Regions from separate parts of the Homo sapiens genome. Here region 1 is linked to region 2. The links come from fine-mapping of genetic effects on gene expression. A gene starts in region 2. The other region holds a variant in brackets. All regions are shown on one strand. Distances are from middle to middle.

Region 1 (2,904 bases), 270 kb before region 2:
GAGAGACAGGACACATGAAAAGTTCCACCTTTGTCAGAGCACAGGAGGAAGAAGTGGCCACCAAAAAAGCAGGTGATAGGAAAACAACATTTTAATGAATTCTCAGAGGCCAGGAGTGGGCCAGCATGACAACTTAGAATCCCCCTGGGTGCATCAGGATCTAGCAGACCCCAAGTTCACTCGCAATCTCTTTTCCACCTCTTGGTGCTCATGAGAAAGATTGGAGGTACAATGAGACAAGAAAGAGGCTCCCTCAGTGGTTCTCAGGCATGAACCCCCTCCTACCTCCCAGAACCTTGTCTCACAAGAAGCAGAAGGACTTAAGCCTCAGGGGAAGGGGCAGGAATCCTTCCCATCCCCTGAGGACAGGCAAAGGTTCACTCCTGGTGGAAGTAAGGGTACAAGTAAGGCCATGTATTTCTGGGGGAGGGATAGGACCAGCCCCTCATTACATGGTGAGGGAGGGTTGAAGCAAAATCTGCCCCCTTGGGAGGGGCAGGAAATCTCCTGGCTAAATCACAAGCTTTGCACCTGTAAACCAAAAAGAAAATTCTAAGCCCCCCAACCTACTGAGCGGACTCCTTCTCGCCAAGGGCATTCCAAAGTAAACCTGCAAAACTAGTTCAGGCCATGATGGGAAGGAGTGTTGGACATGCCTCATTCTGCCCTCATCTCTTTGGAATTCAGGCACAACTGACCAGCATTAACATCAACACAGAGATCTTAAGGCTGACAAAACAGACTCTTTGTAGCAATAAGATACCAAATTCCAACCTGACTGAAGTACAGCATCACATGACAGATAGCAGGTCCTGAAAGAAACAGAAGTATTTTACCCCAAAATAAATTTTTCTTTGACATATTTTGAAACAGCCCTGCAAATCTGTCTCTTGTAGGGAAAATCTACACTGTGTAGAGAGTCCCCTTCCCTTTCCAGGTCTTCTCCTGATTCAGGAGAGATATAACTAAGAGTCTGGCACCTTTTTAAGTCTGATGAGAAACACTTACCATCTATTCTCTCTGAAGCCTGCTACCTGGAGGCTTCATCTGCATAACAAGAACCTTGGTCTTGGCTCATGCCTGTAATCCCAGCACTTTGGGAGGCCGAGGTGGGCAGATCACAAGGTCAGGAGATCCAGACCATCCTGGCTAACATGGAAAAACCCTGTCTCTACTAAAAATACAAAAAATTAGCCAGGTGTGGTGGTGTGCACCTGTAGTCCCAGCTACTCGGGAGGCTGAAGCAGGAGAATCACTTGAACCCGGGAGGTGGAGGTTGCGGTGAACCAAGATTGCGCCACTGTACTCCAGCCTGGGCAACAGAGCGAGACTCTGTCAAAAAAAAACAGGTGGTCTCCACAACCCCTTATCTTTTTAAAAAATGTTTATTTTATGTGCAAAGAGCTATCATGGTTTTTTGGGGTTTTTTTTGTTTGTTTGTTTGTTTTTGACGGAGTCTTGCTCTGTTGCCAGGCTGGAGTGCAGTGGCGCTATCTCAGCTCACTGCAAACTCCACCTCCCGGGTTCAAGTGATTCTCGTGCCTCAGCCTCCTGAGTAGCTGGGATTACAGGCATATGCCACCACGCCCAGCTAATTTTTGTATTTTTAGTAGAGACGAGGTTTCACCATGTTGGCCAGGATGGTCTCGATCTGCTGACCTTGTGATCTGCCCACCTTGGCCTCCCAAAGTGCTGGGATT[T/A]CAGGCGTGAGCCACCGTGCCCGGCCACTATCATGGTTTTTCACTGGGTACATGCGTTGGATAAACCTTTCAAGGAAGGTCAGTTAGTGCAACTTAATGAAACCGATATCTTTCCTGTACTGACGGAAACACTGGCAGTACATATTGAGGGCATATTTACAGATCAGACCATGCCGATTTGGGCCGATGTGACAAGAATGAAAACCCTGGCCGAATATTCACTGGTGGCTCTAGTACAGCTGCTGGTGACCCATCTTGCTCTCAGAAGTGCAACAAGGTAAAAGGCCACAACCTCTTATTTTTAAACCAGACACGCCTTTCTGTTGATTCCAGGTCTTTAGATCATAACTTTACTCTTTCGACCAATTTCCAATCAGAAAATCTTGGAATTTACCTATGATCTGGAAGTCCCCCTGCCCCACACCCCAAATTGTTCCATGATTCCTGAGTGAACAAATGTACACTTTACACGTATTGATTGACGTATGCCTGTAACTTCCATCCCTCTAAAACGTATAAAATTGGCCGCAGGGGCGCACACCTGTAATTCCAGCAATTTGGGAGGCTGAGGTGGGCGGATCACTTGAGGTCAGTTTCACTTGAGTCCGTGTGAAGAGACCACCAGGTTTTGTGTGAGCAATAACGCTTTTAATCACCTGGGTGCAGGCGGGCTGAGTCCGAAAAGAGAGTCAGTGAAGGGAGAGAGGGGTGGTCAGTGAAGAGAGAGTCAGTGAAGGGAGAGCGGGGTTTTATAAGATTTGGGTAGGTAAAGGAAAATTACAGTCCAAGGGGGGTTGTTCTCTGGTGGGCAGGGGTGGGGGTCACAAGGTGCTCAGTGGGGGAGCTTTTGAGCCAGGATGAGCCAGGAAAAGGAATTTCAGAAGGTAATGTTATTAGTTAAGGCAGGAACAGGCCATTTTCACTTCTTTTGTCATTCTTCAGTTACCTCAGGCCATCTGGATTTATACGTGCAGGTCACAGGGGATATGATGGCTTAGCTTGGGCTCAGAGGCCTGATTTTCCTGTCTTCTTATATTAATAAGAAAAATAAAATGAAATGGGGTAAAGTGTTGGGGCGGCGAAAATTTTGGGGGGTGGTATGGAGAGATAATGGGTGATGTTTCTCAGGGCTGCTTCGAGCGGGATTAGGGGCGGCGTGGGAACCTAGAGTGGGAGAGATTAAGCTGAAGGAAGATTTTGTGGT
Region 2 (2,904 bases):
CAGTGACTGAGGAAGCCAAAGTGGGAGGATCACTTGAGGCCAGGAGTTCGAGACCAGACTGGGCAACATAGTTTTTTCTTAAAAAAAAAAAAAAAAAAAAAAAAGCCAGGTGTGGTGGTGTGCACCTGTAAGTCCCAGCTACTCAGGAGGCTGAGGCGAGAGGATCACTTGAACCCAGGAGTTCAAGGTTACAGTGAGCTATAAGTGTGCCACTGCACTCCAGCCTGGGTGACGGAAGACCCTAACTCAAAAAGAAAAGAAACAAAAACCCTCTTGTTGATAAATGCCTCCTCAGGAGAACAGGCGCTGAAGAGAGACAGATGGAGAAAGGAAGCTAAAGCCAGATGGGCTGAATGCCTGTGTGTGAACGTATGTACACATGTGTAAGCATGTGTACACATGTATAAGGCCTAGGTACTGCGGGGGGTGGGGGGGAAAGCAAGGCAAGGAAAAAAGGGGCCAACGAAAGACAAAGGAGGGAAGTTGGACACGGTGGCTCATGCTTTTAATCCCAGCACTTTGGGACTTTGAGGCCAGGAGTTCAAGACCAGCCTGGGCAAGGTAGCAAGACCCAGTCTCTTAAAAAAAAAAAAAAGGTAAAAACAGAGAGAGATGGAGACACACCCCCTTTGGTCCCTCTCTCAATCTTCCCTTCCCTCCCTCTCCCGGTGATTCCATTTAGACCTTGGTGATTCCATTTAGGCCTGGGTGTGGCAGAACCGGGCTCAGAGCAGCCTGAAGATAGATAACCCTTCTGGGAACTGGACCTCTCTCCCCAATCCTGCTTTAAAAAGTAAGGGGGTAGAGGTCGGGCGCAGTGGCTCACGCCTGTAATTCTGGCATTTCGAGAGGCTGAGGTGGGAGGATCGCTTGAGGCCAGGACTTCGAGATCAACCTGGGCAAAAGAGCAAGACCCCGTCTCTATAAAAAATTTTTTTTTAATCCAGGCGTGCTGGCACCTGCCTGTAATCCCAGCTACTTGGGAGGCTGAGGAGGATCGCTTGAGCTCAGGAGTTCGAGACCAGCCTGGGCAACATCACAAGACCTCCGTCTCTACCATAAAAATAAAAATAAAAATAAAAAGCAAGGGGATAGGGACCTCATCAGTCGTCCTGCAGAGTCCTGGTCTCCGCCTCTTCCCTGCTCTCCTCTCTGCCGCCAGTTCCTTAGCGACGGTCTCTAAGTCCCTGCTAGGTGCCCCCTGCCCCATCTCCTCCTGGCCGCTTAATAGAGTGTATCTTCCCCTTTAAAGCAGCTGCCCCCGGTCGGTCATTGTCTCGCCTGGCAGCCAATCGGCGGCGCCGTTGGAGCGGGGGATCCGGCCTCCCAATTGGCCGCTGAGAGTCCCGCCCCGCCAGGGATCCCGGGAGCTGTCCGGCCGCCTCGGTGCTGATCCCGCCACCGCCCACGGGCCGCTAGCAGCGCAGCGGGCACTATGAGCGGGGGCGTCTACGGCGGAGGTGAGCGAGCCTCGGGCCCCCGGCTCCCGCAGCCCTGCGTTCCAAACCCGCGCCATCCATCCGAGCTCTGGGCACCCCGGGGCCTGTCACCTCCGCGCACGAGCGGGTCGAGTCTCAGGCTCGGGTCTCCCGCCACCCCTGCGCTCGGTCCTCCCCAGACGCCCCGCGCGCACAGGGCCCTACCTTGCAACCCACCTCCACCTGGCCCCGGGCCCCTTCCTTTCCCGTCGGGAGGGTGCCCTGAGCAAGGCCATTGGGCAAGAAGGGACCCTGGCGGTGTGATGCCCCCACCCCCAGTCCCAGGACCTCGGACTCCAGGCCCAGCTCCCACCGGCCCCAGACTGGTGTTGAAAGTGGCGAGACTGTGGCTCTGCCCTGACTTTCTCTCGGAGCTACCTAGCGGGAGAGAGTTCGGGGGAGGTCCCCTTACAGGCCTGTCTCCCCGCACAGATGAGGTGGGGGCGCTGGTCTTTGACATTGGCTCCTTCTCAGTCCGCGCTGGGTACGCTGGGGAGGACTGTCCCAAGGTGAGCCTTCCAGTCTCCTCTCCAAATCCTAGGGGCTTCGGACCCTTCTTCAGGCTTTCCAGTGACCCAGGGCTCTCCCAGATCGCCCAGAAGCTCTGCTGAGCGGGAATATGGGAATAAACCCAGGGGCGGTCTGAGGACCCTGCTGTGGGGCTGGACAGGGGCAAGAGGGTGACCTCTCTCCCTGCCAATACTCCCCCAACCCTTCCCCACCAGGCTGACTTCCCCACCACAGTGGGGCTGCTGGCCGCGGAGGAGGGGGGCGGGCTGGAGCTGGAGGGGGACAAAGAGAAGAAAGGGAAGATCTTCCACATCGACACCAATGCCCTGCACGTGCCTCGGGATGGAGCGGAGGTCATGTCGCCCCTCAAGAATGGCATGAGTAAGGGGCCCCCACCCATCACCTCCTGACAGAAAAGGAGCCCGCTCCCCACAATCTGGGTCATAGCAGCCCCCACTCCCCGCGGAGTCTTCCTTGCAGCCCCAGGGTTCTTCTGGCTGCCAGGGTTCTTCTCGCTGGGTTCCCTTCCCAGGGGCCCACCAGGTTTCTGGGAAGGGGGGCGTTCCCCTGGAGCTGGACTCACTGACCCTCCTTTGGGCTTGGCCTTTCTCCCTCCTTTTCTTCCTGTCCCTGTCCCCTGCCTGCCTTCTTGCGTCTCTGCACGCTGCTCTTCTGGCCCCAGTCGAGGACTGGGAGTGCTTCCGAGCCATCCTGGATCACACCTACAGCAAACACGTCAAGTCTGAGCCAAACCTGCACCCAGTGCTCATGTCCGAGGCTCCGGTGAGTGCCTCCTCCATCCTCATGTCCAACCCTGATCTCCACTGCACCTCCTTCCCACCATCCACCTCTCCTCCTCTCCCCTCAAGCCACTGCTCTGAGCCACTTCCCTTCCCTTTTCAGACTCCCCTCACCC

Direction of the effects. Positions count from the first base shown, and alleles are read on the strand shown. Sizes are in standard deviations (SD) of each study's normalised expression.
In carriers of allele A in region 1, the expression in cerebellum of the gene that starts at base 1,342 in region 2 tends to be higher than with T alone (large effect, 1.1 SD a copy in GTEx).

Evidence for each region. PIP is the estimated chance that this variant, and not a neighbour inherited with it, causes the effect.
Region 1: its variant is the best candidate, but not a certain one, in a credible set for the expression of ACTL6B in cerebellum (GTEx, PIP 0.82).

What each region holds. Positions count from the first base shown.
Region 1 is chr7:100,927,420-100,930,323 of GRCh38, reverse strand. It overlaps the pseudogene RPS29P15. Among named protein-coding and RNA genes, the nearest start is that of MUC3A, 21 kb to the left of the region's middle. RefSeq lists enhancers at 929-1,885, 1,886-2,843. The variant T/A (reference allele first, on the strand shown) is at 1,701.
Region 2 is chr7:100,654,886-100,657,789 of GRCh38, reverse strand. It overlaps ACTL6B (actin like 6B), which reads left to right and starts at 1,342. Exons shown (of 14, transcript NM_016188.5): 1 at 1,342-1,460; 2 at 1,911-1,987; 3 at 2,204-2,369; 4 at 2,671-2,771. The coding sequence starts at 1,436. It overlaps LOC105375429 (a long non-coding RNA gene), which reads right to left and starts at 1,229. Exons shown (of 3, transcript NR_133946.1): 1 at 1,100-1,229.